Homo sapiens: one gene and its partner. The protein of the gene in region 1 interacts with the protein of each later gene in a pairwise test. Each region holds a gene or a part of one and is shown in the gene's direction. Other genes may lie near its edges.

Evidence for each region. The genes of interacting proteins can lie anywhere in the genome.
Region 2: the proteins of MARCHF6 (region 1) and MSMO1 interact in a protein complementation assay, tested with the Homo sapiens proteins (one study listed by BioGRID).

The regions. Positions count from the first base shown.
Region 1 is NC_000005.10:10,405,142-10,413,293, forward strand, and holds part of MARCHF6 (E3 ubiquitin-protein ligase MARCHF6), read left to right. Parts: intron 1-416; coding exon 417-536; intron 537-1,960; coding exon 1,961-2,061; intron 2,062-4,997; coding exon 4,998-5,135; intron 5,136-6,191; coding exon 6,192-6,396; intron 6,397-8,133; coding exon of another isoform or gene 8,134-8,151; exon of another isoform or gene 8,152-8,152. UniProt on the Homo sapiens protein: Endoplasmic reticulum membrane-associated E3 ubiquitin ligase that plays a critical role in mitigating endoplasmic reticulum stress, the regulation of cholesterol and lipid homeostasis, and ferroptosis.
Region 2 is NC_000004.12:165,337,093-165,343,664, forward strand, and holds the end of MSMO1 (methylsterol monooxygenase 1), read left to right. Parts: intron 1-696; coding exon 697-845; intron 846-1,559; coding exon 1,560-1,686; intron 1,687-3,128; coding exon 3,129-3,283; intron 3,284-4,658; coding exon 4,659-4,854; 3' UTR 4,855-6,072; downstream 6,073-6,572. UniProt on the Homo sapiens protein: Catalyzes the three-step monooxygenation required for the demethylation of 4,4-dimethyl and 4alpha-methylsterols, which can be subsequently metabolized to cholesterol.

The DNA.
Region 1 (8,152 bases):
ACCCCATCACCTGCAGCCTCTTGGGTGATGATTTTCATTTACAGGGGGAAGGCAAATCAGACCGTCTATTTAGTACATTTATAAATTGCAACATAACCCTTTTACGATAGTAATGGTTGTATTTATTTTTCGTCTCAGAGGTCTAGATTTCTTGACACATTGGACCCAATGAATGTTTTTTTTTTCCCCCGCCCCTAGTGAATGATGATGTCAAAGGACATCATCAGACACAGGGTAGTTTTCATAAAGATTCTGGTTTAGGAACTTACTTTCCTAAGAATACCATGTACATTTTCTGGGGCCCACTTTAGATGCCAGAATAATTCTAAGTGCTTATCTTTCTGTTAATGTTTTAGCTCATATATAGAATTTGAAGACATTGGTGAATATTCATAGTATTTAAAATATATTTGCAGGTACTTCGACCTGGTGTCCTGTGGTTTCTAAGGAATTTGAATGATCCAGATTTCAATCCAGTACAGGAAATGATCCATTTGCCAATATATAGGCATCTCCGAAGATTTATTTTGTCAGTGGTAAGAAGATGTTTCCATTGTTTTTTTTTTTTGAATTAATTGTGCTAACCTATAGTTTTGTTTAGGTTTTTTTTTCCAGTTCTCAAGCAGGCTGATAGAGTATATTGAATAATATATTTATCTAAGCCTGTGGTATTCAGTTGTCAAGTAGCTGTGTTATTGGTTACTTTGTTAAAATAAATATGTAAAAAGATATTTACTAAAAGGAAGATACTTCCTTGTTCCATAGTAGTATAATTCAGGGGTCCCTAGCCCCCATGTTTTGGCTGGGTACTGGTGCATGTCCCGTTAGGAATGGCCGCACAGCAGGAGATGGGCAGCGGTCAAGCAAGCATTACCACCTGAGCTCCACCTCCTGTCAGATCAGCCTTGGCGTTAGATTCTCATGGGAGCGGGAACCCTATTGGGAACTGCGAGTGCGAGGGATCCAGATTGTGTGCTCATTATGAGAATCTAATGCCTGATGATCTGAAGCAGAACAGTTTCATCCTGAAATCCCGTTGAAAACTGTTTTCCATGAAACTGGTCCCTGATGCCAAAATGGTTGGGGACCACTGGTATGATTGATTGCTAAATTACGGTTGTCTGAATTACGTTTAATTTGCATTGAAGCAATGGAGACTTACTACTGGCTTGTAAATTAAACTCTTAACAGAAGCATGTCAAAGTTTCCCCACCCAGAAGAAGAAATTACATAGTTAAATCTAATTTCTTTCTTTTTTTTTTTTTTGAGATGGAGTTTTGGTCTGTCACCCATGTTAGAGTGCGGTGGTATGATCTTGGCTCACTGCAACCTTCACCTCCCTGTTTCAAGCAATTGTTGTGACTCAGCCTCCCAAGTAGCTGGGATTACAGGCGCCCACCACCAAGCTCAGCTAATTTTTGTATTTTTAGTAGATGCGGGGTTTCACTATGTTGGCCAGGTTGGTCTCGAACTCCTGACATAGTGATTCGCCCACCTCAGCCTCCCAAAGTGCTGGGATTACCTCACCCAGCCGTAAATCTAAGTTTTTCTAAAATAAAATTCTTAAAGTAACATTATGTCCTTTGAAAGCTTTTGTAGCCATTAACATGGGGCAAGTCTTAGCTGGTTACAAGTGATTTATTAAGTTGCAGGCATTTCTGCTTCCTCATTTTAAGTTTCCAGCTCATTCCTTAGGTAGCAAGTGGTGATTATCCTTTGTGGCTTCCGTTTTAGCATTTGTGTCCTAGATGGGAGGTCCTTACAGGAAGAGGGGCAGGCATCTTAGGAAAACATTTTTATACAAAATGACTCAAAGATAATGTGTAGAGTGGGAACCGCTTGGGCTTTGAGTAGACACAGGCCTGGACTGCATATTGCTTGAGTGTGCTCAGAAGTCTGCCTGTCTTGCACAGGAGTGATTGACTCTTATAGTGGTGTCATACCCTGTTTCCTTCTGCAGATTGTCTTTGGCTCCATTGTCCTCCTGATGCTTTGGCTTCCTATACGTATAATTAAGAGTGTGCTGCCTAATTTTCTTCCATACAATGTCATGCTCTACAGGTAAGTTTTAAAAATTTAGAATAGCTTTACTAATTTATCTCTATTAGGGATTTGATGTTCAGATTACATTAAACATTTAAAACATTTCTTATAGTTACTGGAAATCATCTGACAATTAAATTTTGCTTTATTTTACCTTTATTTTTATTATTTTTTAAATTAAATTTAATGTTTAAAAAATTTTCTGGACCTTTTCCACTTTGCATAAATTTTGCCTTATTTTAGATCAGATAAACATTAGTACTTACATTTTGTAAAGGAAGATGTTTATTTTTTCTGCGCATAAAGTATGCATTTGCACACCATTGAAATGTTTTACCATACCTAATGAGAGTGTATTAGCATCATCTTTATTTTGAAAAGCACATTATAAAGAATAAAGCCAGAGTTGCACATTTAATTATTAAAAATAGGGTACAAGGCTTGTAGATGGAACATCTTTTTTGCTTTAAAAACTTAAGTGGGCTAAGGCCAGGCGTGGTGGCTCACGCCTGTAATCCCAGCACTTTGGGAAGCCGAGGCAGGCGGATCACCTGAGATTGGGAGTTTGAGACCAGCGTGACCAACATGGAGAAACCCTGTCTCTACTAAAAATACAAAAAAATTAGCCATGCGTGGTGGCGCATGCCTGTAATCCCAACTACTCGGGAGGCTGAGGCAGGAGAATCGCTTGAACCCAGGAGGCAGAGGTTGCGGTGAGCCGAGATCGTGCCATTGCACTCCCACTTGGGCAACAAGAGTGAAACTGCATCCCCCCCCCCCCAAAAAAAAAAGCCATCCGGAAACCTCCCACTACCAGTAATCTTTACCACTCATCCTATATGCTCTTTAGGGATTTGTATTATCCCCACAGTCATTATCCCAATTGCAGGCAAATTGGATTATTTCCTCAAGTTTACTTCTAATGAGTCTTTAAAGTATTGCCAATTCTAATTTCTTAAAATCTCTTACTAATCTAACTCGATTTGCCACTTACTTAATTTAGGCCTTCCTCTTGCTCTCCATTCATCCGCAACACCTCTGCCTCTAGATTTTCTAGAACTTGGATTATTTTACCCCTGTGTTTAAAAGTTGGCAGCACTTCCTCTGTAATCTATGTGATATATACACCATTTAGAATGAGATGCAAGACTTGGCATAATCTCATGTTGCTTTTTCAGTGTCTTGTCTCAGCATTGACTGACTTCAATTCTTTTAATTGTGCTACACTGCCATTGAGGCTCCCCTGATTACTTAGCTGTTTGTCTTTTTCTCTCTGTTTACAATGACTTGCTTGTCCACGTTTGAGTGGCAAGCATTTGATATTCTTTTTAAAATCCAGATTAAGGTTTTTAAATTTTATTTTATTTTTTATGAGAAAGAGTCTCGCTCTGTCACCCAGGCTGTAGTGCAGTGGTATGATCATGGCTCACTGCAGCCTCAACCTCCTGGGCTCAAGTGATCTTCCCACTTCAGCGTCCCGGGTAGCTGAGACTACAGGCGCAAGCCACCACACCTGCCTAATTTTTGTATTTTTTGGGGAGACCGGGTTTTACCATGTTGCCTGTGCTGGTCTTGAATTCCTGAGCTTGAACCATCTGCCTGCCTCAGCCTCCCAAAATGTTAGGATTACAGGCATGAGCCACTGTGCCTGGCCATCATTCCATCCTTTAAAATTGTCTTCATCGTTGTATTTCTTTTTATAGCATTTGTTACATTACTTTACAAATATGTATTGTTTTATCCCAGATGGCAGAAATCATGTCTTATTTAGGTCTTTTTCTCTCTGTCTCTCTTTTTTTAATTTAAAAAAATATTTTGTGGAGACAGGGTCTGACTATATTGCCCAGGCTGGTCTTGAATTCCTGGCCTCAAGCAATCCTTCCACTTTGGTCGCCCAAAGTGCTGGGATTATAGGTGTGAGCCACTGCGCCCAGCCTCTTATTTGGATCTTAATGCTTTGCATAGGAACATGATTGTTCAAAAATAAAAGGTTTACTCTACACATAGTAAAATCTCAAATTTGTATTTTATTAAATTAGAATTGGAAAATACTTATATCCTGATTATTTAAAGTGGCAGAAAAAATGCCAGTAAGGGTATAGAAAGTGGGCAGGATGGGGTTACAATTTAGGAATAGTGACTGGTAAAGACCTGAGGGGGTGACAGTTGAGGAAAGCCCTGAAGGAGTTGAGAGAGTGAGCCACGTGGATCCCTGAAGGCAGAATATTCTTGCAGAAAGTAGGTGCAGTGGCACCCAGGTCTGTTTGAGGATCTGCAGGGAGGCAAGTTTGTCTGTAGTAGGAGGAGGAAGGCAAAGAATTGGCCCTGAAGTCAGAAAGGTCATGGAGAGCCACCTCCTAGAGAGTCTTACACGACATAAGCACTTTGGCTTTTGCTTGAGTGAATTGAGGAGCTCTTGGAAAGCTTTGAGCAAAGGAGTGATCTAACTTAGGTTTAAAGAGGATCATTCTGACTGCTGTGATGAGAGGAAACTGGGTTGGAGTGGCTAGGTCAGAAACAGGAAGCCAGCTGGGAGGATAATGCAATGATCCTGGTGAGAGGTGAGGGTGGCAGAGATGAAGGGGAGGTAGCAGTGGAGGCCTTGAGAAATTTTTAGGATATTGTTAAGGTACAGTCAAAAGGATTCTCTAGCTGTTTGGATGTGAGGTGTCAAAGGAAGGAGTGACCTTTTGTGTAACATGCTACTAATATAGCAAGTGAGGAGAGAACCAAGACCTACCCATCAGTTTAGCAAAATGAAAGTCTTTGGTGACCCTTATCAGAAACAATTTGGTGGAGTTTGTGGGGAAAGCCTCACTGAGTTGGAGAGAGAATGAAAGGAGAGGTAATAAAGACAGTAAGTTTATTAGATTCTTAAGAAGTTGCGTTGTAATCCCATTAAATAGTAGTCATATGCAAAATACAATTCACATTATAAATCCTGCCTCTTTCAGTGATGCTCCAGTGAGTGAACTGTCCCTCGAGCTGCTTCTGCTTCAGGTTGTCTTGCCAGCATTACTCGAACAGGGACACACGAGGCAGTGGCTGAAGGGGCTGGTGCGAGCGTGGACTGTGACCGCCGGATACTTGCTGTGAGTATGGGCAGCTGACTCCTTGGACATGCATGTCATTTGTGACTATGGAATAACCTTTCTGGAAAAAGTATGTTCCATGGCCCACTCAAGAAAAATTAGTTTTAATAAGAGACAATTTAGTAATATTTGCAATTGCATATAATACTTCTAAATGAAATTTTTTTTTCTTATTGTCCATCCTTTCATGGAGAATATATACATCTTTTTGCCCTCTTATAGAAGTTTGCTGCTGGTCCAGCTTTCATGGAGTAAATGTCTTTTTTTTTTTTAGTGCATTAAAAACAAACCAGTTTACCTTTATTTAGACCAACTAACTTACCTTTATTTAGTGCTCATAACCTGGGAAATGGGTTCTTCTCAAATTTGATTTCTCAATCTTCTAGTGAACATGTTGCATTTTTTTCCCCAAGCTTTATATACTCTATATTTATTTAAAAGTTGAATCTTTAAAAGTTTTTCAGTTTGGCATCTTGTAGGTATCTTAAAGGTGAAGTACAGATTTGGTTATATTTGCTTGAACATCTGTCGTCCTCTAACTGCTTCCTCCCCCAGTCTCATTTCTGACCTAACTGATTTATAGCTTGGAGGTTTTACAAATTTATAGCTTGTAGCTACATGTTGCAGTAGTCATCTGTAGAGAAGATAAGAAGTTTTTCTTTTCCTCCTGTAGATCCTTAACAATATTGTACATTGTAAGTATGTACTTACACCTTGTGCTTGTAAGTACTTACCTCTTGTACTTACAAGTGTACTTGTAAGTATCTTGTACATTGTACTTTTTTCTTTCAGTTACTGATTTCTTCTCAGATACTGGCTGAAGAAAACGTAAAATAGGTTGAATTTATGGGATATCCTACAAGTTCATTAACATTAGAAAGGTTTGATTTAAAGTGGGTACAAACATTTAGACCAAAATTAGGTAATAATGTGGTGCACAAATTCTGTATTATACATTTTCTACCCTTAGTAGTAAATATGAAGAAAATGAGTGTCATGTCTGCCATTTTATTGTGACCTGAAGTGAGACTTGTTACTGATGTAATTTTTGCACAGGGATCTTCATTCTTATTTATTGGGAGACCAGGAAGAAAATGAAAACAGTGCAAATCAACAAGTTAACAATAATCAGCATGCTCGAAATAACAACGCTATTCCTGTGGTGGGAGAAGGCCTTCATGCAGCCCACCAAGCCATACTCCAGCAGGGAGGGCCTGTTGGCTTTCAGCCTTACCGCCGACCTTTAAATTTTCCACTCAGGGTAGGTGCTATACAGACTTAATCACATATAGAGGTTTTTTTGGTTTTTTTGTTCTCCAAATTGCTGTTGAGAATTGGTGCTATTAGTATGCAGTCCTCTGTGTAGACATGTTCCACATTTTATTACCCTCATTATGTAACGTAAATGATTAGGTAAGTTTATCAAATTTTAGAGATAAGTCAAAGAGTTGGGATTCCCTGGGCTCTTGCTCCCTATTTAAGAGGAAAAGACTCTAGAGTAATTAAGAAACTAACATTATTGATACATTTCAACAGTGTGTCAGGAACTAGAATGGGCATTTGGATGTTTTCTCATTTAATCTCCACTCAAATACTGCAAAGTGTAGGCGATAATTTCATGTTTATAGCTAAGGAAACTGAAGGCAATATTGGTTAAGAATGTGCCTATTACATGTTCGTTAGCAAGTGATCAATCTTTGTGCACCTCAGAATTTTGTCAGAAATGTAAGCTGATGACTGCTATATGATTACAGTGAAGTCATCATTTATATCAAGTCTGTTATTTTAAAATGCCCTTTAATAATGACATGGGCTTGTGAGTCTGATCATTTTAAAACTTGGGCAGGTTATTTAACCTCTCAGCCTCACATTTCTTTTTTTGTAAAAATAGTCATTATTATACCTTTGTAGATTACTGTGGGTCACATGTGTTCAGTCATTCAGCAAACATGTCTTAAGTGTCTATGATTGATATTTTCAGTGTCTGTGAGGATATAGAGAGCATACGTGGTCTTTGCTCAGAAAGAGCTTACAGTCTACTCAGATGAGAAAGACAGTGGCAGATTTGAGCTCTCATGCTGGTGTTTACAGTGGGTGCTGTGACTCCTTCAATCAAGAACCACTTGTTCTTAATATGGACCCAAAGGAATCTTCCTAGAATAGGTGGTGCCTGAACTGTCTTAAACATTGAGAGACCTGTCAGAGAGTGAAAAAAAGGAAGTGGGAAGGGCATTCCAGGAATATGTCAGGACTAGGGCACATTAGGCATGGTGGGCTTAGAATTGCAGATAAGAGAGTTGTGTTGTTTTGTTTTTGAGACAGGGTCTTGCTCTGTTGCCCAGGCTTGGTTGCAGTGTGCGATCATGGCTCACTGTAGCCTTAACCTCCTGGGTTCAAGCGATCCTCCTACCTACTCAGCCGTCCGATTAGCTGGGACCATGGGTGCATGCCACTACACCTGGCTAATTTTTATATTTTTTGTTGAAATGGAGTTTTGCTATGTAGCCCAGGCTGTTCTCAAACTCCTAGTTCAAGCAGTCTGCCTGCCTCGGCCTCCCAAAGTACTGGAATACAGGTGTAAGCCACTGCGGCTGGCCTAATTGAATATATTTAGAGGGTGAGGTGTATGTCCAGGAGAGGTGAGGAACAAGGGGAGAGATGAGGGGCCATGGGAGTGGTGAGGGATAAGGTGGGGAAGAGGTGAGGGACAAGAGGAGTGGTGGGAGATAACGCTCTTGAATGGGCAGGAACCAGATAATGGAGCACCTTGAGCACCCTCTGCATGAGTCCACACTCACTGAATTGTTCTTCTGCTCCTTTGTCCCCTTGAGGGGCATATCTCTGTTCCTGATTCAGTGGCTTATTCTAGAGGACTTTGCTGCATAACCTTGAGGAAAGCATGAAGGTCATCTTTTCCTTTATCTCTTAATAGCAGATCTCATAGTCAGCTCCCGTTTTTCCCCCTTGGTCTTTACTCAGCTCTCTCGCCTCTCCGCAGACAAAAAAGGCCTTCTGAG
Region 2 (6,572 bases), on another chromosome or scaffold:
CCCAAAGCACTTTTTTAAGTGCAGTCCTATAAATTGAATACATTTAGTTAGTGTTTGTTTTGTTTTGCTTTGTTTTTTATAATGACTTGCTAAGCAAATGGGTATCCTGATGAGGTCTTAACGAACATCCCATGTTGATCTAACTTTTCTCATTTTGACTTGAATCTGTGAACTCCATAATCAGGACATATCTGTGTACTTCTCAACTCAGAGAGTTTATAATTCTGTCATTGGATTTGAACAAAAGTGCATTTATTTGTTGGAATGAATACCACTGAGTGCCTGGAAGCATCGACTTACTGTGTAAAAGGCTTCCAATGCTTCGTATACAACTTCTTCAATTGTGGACACCCAACAGTAATCTTAGCATATTATATTTCTTCTTCTCTGAAACTTCTGGTAAAAGAAGTGAAGTGAATGATCTGTGGCAGCAAAGACTGGAGAATTATTCATTCCATAGTGTTTCTTAGTTTGTTTGAGATCATCATGGCTAGGCGCATCTGTTAACAGTTTCTTCACCTGAAGTAGTGATAGTAGTTGTCAAGAATTTAGAAGGCAAAGATTCCTGAGTCTTAGTTATATAAAGTTAACATAACTGACGTAGAATTAAGGTCCAACATAAACAGAGAACAAATTAGGTCAAGTTAAACTCTGATAGCAGAGACTAATATTAGATATTGTGATTTTTCTTCGTAGGATAAGCCAGAGACATGGGAAAACCAATGGAAGTGTTTCAAAGTTCTTCTCTTTAATCACTTCTGTATCCAGCTGCCTTTGATTTGTGGAACCTATTATTTTACAGAGTATTTCAATATTCCTTATGATTGGGAAAGAATGCCAAGATGGTACGTAGATAAAAATTTGGCTTTTACACCCAATTGTGGCTTATTCAGTTAAGTTATACTTAATGTTTACCCGTTTTCTTAATTTTAGTTAATGTTTGTTCTAAACTTTGGAAGTAAATAAATAGTAGAAAAGTAAACCACAGTAAAATCTTAAAATGTTTCCATTTTTACATCTTTTAAATATTTTATTGGAAGGTGAGCTTCTAGTATCAGAAGTTTCCATAACGTCTTTTGTATGTTTATATACATGTATAAGTGCTTATGTTGACAAAAATATATTACATTTTAATTTTAAAATGAATGAAATATATGAGAATCATTTATGAGGTTTATAGAAATTGTGTTTACATGAACAAAAATATGTATGTGTATATATATATATATATATATATACACACATATATATATACACACACATATATATACTCATGCGTCACTTAACGGATATCTCTTGAGAAAAGTGTCATGAGGCAAGTTGTGTGAACATTGTAATGAAATGAAATTGGTCTAATGGGCAGTCTCTTTAACCTTATATCAAGTTATGTAGCTGTATCTGGTGGTTTTGAGAATTTATTTATGAATATATCCAATTAGGTCAACCTGGTAAGTGGGTGGGTGGTTTTATGTAATGTCTCAAGCAGTGATCCCAACTAAAAGTCTGGATAGTTTAAGTAAAAATTATTTCTTACACATTACAACATTTTTATCTTAAAGGTATTTTCTTTTGGCAAGATGCTTTGGTTGTGCAGTCATTGAAGATACTTGGCACTATTTTCTGCATAGACTCTTACACCACAAAAGAATATACAAGTATATTCATAAAGTTCATCATGAGTTTCAGGTATGTGAGAGTTATATTTAATTCTTTCTGTTAGAGGCAAAATGTCTATTTTAATTGCCTGAGCATTTTTCTAAAATTGTTGGTGACGTTTTTATTTTCTTTTCCTTTGGCATGATTATTAAGAACAATACACACACATACAAACAAGCCATTTCTACACATTGTTTTCATTATTTAAATTTCATGGTAAATTGAGATCTGAAAGAAAAATATTATATGAAAGTTCGGACTTCCATCCTTGTGGACAGTGCTACACTGGCACAGCTAGATCCTCACATTGCTAACTCCCACAAAAACAGTAACTTCTATGAGCACTGCTTTTTTTTTTTTTTTTTTTTTTTTTGAGATAGAGTTTTGCTCTTGTTGCCCAGGCTGGACTGCAATGGCATGATCTCAGCTCACTGCAACCTTCACCTCCTGGGTTCAAGCAATTCTCCTGCCTCAGCCTTTCAGGTAGCTGGGATTACAGGCATGCGTCACCACGCGTGGCTAATTTTGTATTTTTAGTAGAGACAGGATTTCACTATGTTGGTCAGGCTGGTCTCGAACTCCTGACCTCAGGTGATCCACCCGCCTTGGACTCGCAAAGTGCTGGGATTACAGGCGTGAGCCACCATGCCCGGCCAATTAGAATTGCTTTGATGTAGCTTTGTCAACTGGTTATGTGAGTATGTTTTGCATTGACCGTGATTACATGGTGTGCCAAATCAAGCCTCTCTTTATTAGAAGAACAAATATAAATACTTAAGTCAAAATTAGAGTTCAAGTCAATTATTTAATGCCTTTATCTTAAACCATCAAAGACAGCAAGATTTTATATCCCTAGACTTTTGATGTGGAGTAAGGTATTTTTATTGAGAATTGCTAGTATTATTTATAAGTGTATGACTAGATAAATCATCACTACATATAGAATCAATATAACTTTGTAAAACTTTATGCATAAATAGGATATATATATTAGTGAAGTCTCCAGTGAAGCAGAATCATTGGGGTATATATATGCAGAGAGAGATTTATTTTAAGGAATCAGCTCATGCAAGTGTGCGGCTGTCAAGTCTGAAATCTGTAAAGCAGGCTACAGACTAGAAATCCAGGTAAGAATTGTTGCAGCCTTGGGTCCAAATTCCATGGAGCAGCAAGTTGGAAACTCAGGCAGGGTTTCAGTGTTGCAGTCTCGAGAATCCTTCTTCAGGAAACCTCAGCCTTTTATCCTGAAGGCCTTCAAATGATTGGATGAAGCCCACCCTCATTATGAAGGGTAATCACCTTTACTCAGTCTACTGATTTAAATGTTAACAACATCTAAAAAATACCTTCACAACAACATCTAGACTGGTATTTAATCAAACAGTTGGATATCATAGCCTAGCCAAGTTGACACATAAAATTGACCATCACAATAGCTAAGAAATTAAGAATTTCTTATCTGTTTGTCTTAGGCTCCATTTGGAATGGAAGCTGAATATGCACATCCTTTGGAGACTCTAATTCTTGGAACTGGATTTTTCATTGGAATCGTGCTTTTGTGTGATCATGTAATTCTTCTTTGGGCATGGGTGACCATTCGTTTATTAGAAACTATTGATGTCCATAGGTGAGTATTAATTTCTGTTCAGGTATAAAGCATAATGAAATATATTTATTTTCATGGCCATAAGATTATCATATTTCTAAGGAGACTAATAGGAGAAGTTAATCTTCTTAATGTTATATTAAGAAAACATAACTGTTGGATAAAAGTTTAAATAATAGATGTTTTTACATTCTAGCCTATGCTGTTATAATTTTTATAGTGATAATGTGTTATTAGGGCAAGTATATATTCAGGACCAGCAATTTCCTTATCCTTCTGTAATAAACCTAAACTTAACTCATATTTGAAAAAAATATCAAAGCATTCAGCCTTCCTTGAATAAGACTTTCTAATCTCTACTGTTCAGCACTGATAAAGGCACTTGCAAGATGAAACTACTACTTGTAACACATACATATTTCAAATGCATCCTTTCTGTTGATTGGAAGACATTTTGTGGTAAATTATTTATATTGAATGCCTTCTTAAATGCTTATCCTAATTGTTCATTATTTTTTAATTATATGTTCATTGCATTTTGACTTGGGACATACTTCTGTACTCATGAATGCAGAATATCAAATTCTAAGAATTATTTTTAAAGTGCTAAAGTAGCAAAATTAATGCTTCTAGTCCTAGGCAGAGAATATTCTTCTGTAGAAAAATTGTAATTGACATTTCTTTCTTTTTTTTTTCTATCCATTGTTTCTTTCTGCCTTCCTTCCTCTAAGCTCCTCAAAGGAAGAGAGGGTTAGAGTGATTCAAATAAGTATAACTGGATGTCTGATTGTAGATATGTAGTTGGAAATAAAGGAGCATACTTTAAATGGGACTCTTTTTTGAAGCCATTTGTCTTCTGCCAACTATAGAAAAGTACACTGGTATTTTGATTAATTGTGGTACATTTGATTCCAACTTGTCATTGCCTAAAAAAGTAAATGAAGTTGCTATACAGGGATTCATGGGCCTGCCCTTTTTAATACTTGATACTAATTTTATGTGACTTTTCCTAAAAAACATATTTAGTATTTTGGGCTTTATTTACAACTGTTATACATGATGGTGAGAAAGCTTCCTCTAAAACATAAAAGAAAATTAATTCTTAAAAATCTGTGTCTAAAGATTCATTACTATAATCCGTCTCTTCCATCATTCATATATTTTATCATAAAATAAATGATTTTCTTAGTTTTTTTAAGGATTTTTTTTCTTAGAGTGGTTTCTAGAATATACACCATTTTCTGTGTTTGCTGTTTGTGAACACTTAGAAATAAAGTGGTCTAGGCAAAGTGGCATGTTATCTAAATTGGTTAATGTGAACACATGATTATTAATAAAAACAACAATCATTTGAGATGTATTTATTCCTTAATAATCTTTATCATTTTTGTTTCAGTGGTTATGATATTCCTCTCAACCCTTTAAATCTGATCCCTTTCTATGCTGGTTCTCGGCATCATGATTTCCACCACATGAACTTCATTGGAAACTATGCTTCAACATTTACATGGTGGGATCGAATTTTTGGAACAGACTCTCAGTATAATGCCTATAATGAAAAGAGGAAGAAGTTTGAGAAAAAGACTGAATAAATATCTCACGTAAACCTTCCTGAAAGATAAACGTTTTCCTGAATTCAGAAACTAGTAGCTAACATTGCTTCTGGAGAGCAGAAATAAGCATGTCTTCTGGCTACTAAGTGATAAAAAGAACATTAACAACCTTTAATTACCTTCCTAGTGGGAACTTTTTCTACTTTACCTACAAGTTCTATATATGTAGAAATGAATAAATATATATTTAAGTACAGTTTTCATGAGGAAGTTTTAAAAGACCATGTTCCTAAGCTTCCAAGAAGGTTTTGGATACTAGAAGTATTAATCTATGGCTTTTCTCCCAGTAAAACCATAGGCCTGAAGTTCACATTGGGTCTTTAAATCTTTTAGATATATACTGGTCATTTCAGAAAATTCTTCATAGTGGTATTGGCCTTATATTTAACTTTTTTTTTATTTTTTTTTTGAGACAAAGCCACACTCTGTCTCCTTGGCTGGAGTGTGGTGGCACAGTCTCAGCTCACTGCAACCTCTGCCTCCCAGTTCAAGCAATTCTTCTGCCTCAGCCTCCCAAGTAGCTGGGATTACAGGCACCCGCCACCACGCCCAGCTAATTTTTGTATTTTTGTAGAGATGGGGTTTCACGATGTTGGCCAGGCTGGTCTCAAACTTCTGACCTCAAGTGATCTGCCCACCTTGGCCTCCCAAAGTGCTGGGATTACAGGTGTAAGCCACTGCGCCCGGCCTTTTTAACTTTAAACATGTTTTAGAATTCACCTAAAGATCAAAATATCATGGATTGAACCTCATCAATTGATAGCAGTGAGTGACTGAAGCTTCCAAATCAAGAAAAGCCGGCACCAAGAACTTCCATTCTAATCTAGAGCTGACCAGTTTGAGCTGATTCTCTCTTTGAAGAGTCCTTCTTGATTGCAGTGCAGTACTGGCATTTCTGAATGGATGTAAGTGGAGTATTTTAGTCTAAAGGCTTTTCAAATTACTTGAATTTTTTTAAAAATTGAGGAGCTTTATTTCTATTTACCCTTCCATTTTTGTATATCAAATTTCCATTGTCATTAAAAACTGTATCTTGAAACTTTGTGAACTGACTTGCTGTATTTGCACTTTGAGCTCTTGAAATAAATGTGATTTTTGTGTGATTATCTGGTTTCCAGTTTTAAACATTAACTGTCACCTTTTATTCTTAAACTTGAAAGTACAGAAATCATTAAATTATTAAGTTGTACAATAAAAGGATTGGTTTCTTTTCTTTTTTTTTTTTTTAAGTGCTTCCTTTGCCGAAATGTTTCCTGGCTGTTTGAACATGAATTTTTCAGGTTTAAGTATTGTGGGAAATCATCTTGACCTAATAAAGCAATACATACTGAAGCAGTTCTTTGCCCTGCTTAGATAATGTATGTTTTCTGTACAGTTGAAGAATAGAGCTAAACTTTTCAGGGCTGATAAAATCTCAACTATCTAGTTTGTAACTCATCAAGGGTTGGGAATTCTTAGTATGTGGTGTTAATTATTTTTATTTTTTTAAGCTGCGGAGTCATTATCTGGTAACTTCCTTTTTTTTCTTTTTCTTTTTTTGAAACCTTACACGGTAAAGATGTCCAGGTGTAAGGGATTCAGATACTTAAAACTGAGAATGTTTTGTTTGTAGGTCATGCTTTATACCTTGTATGTGGTTCATATGCCCACGTGTGTGTGTGTGTGTAAATTTGTTGTAATCCTCAAGCAACAAATTT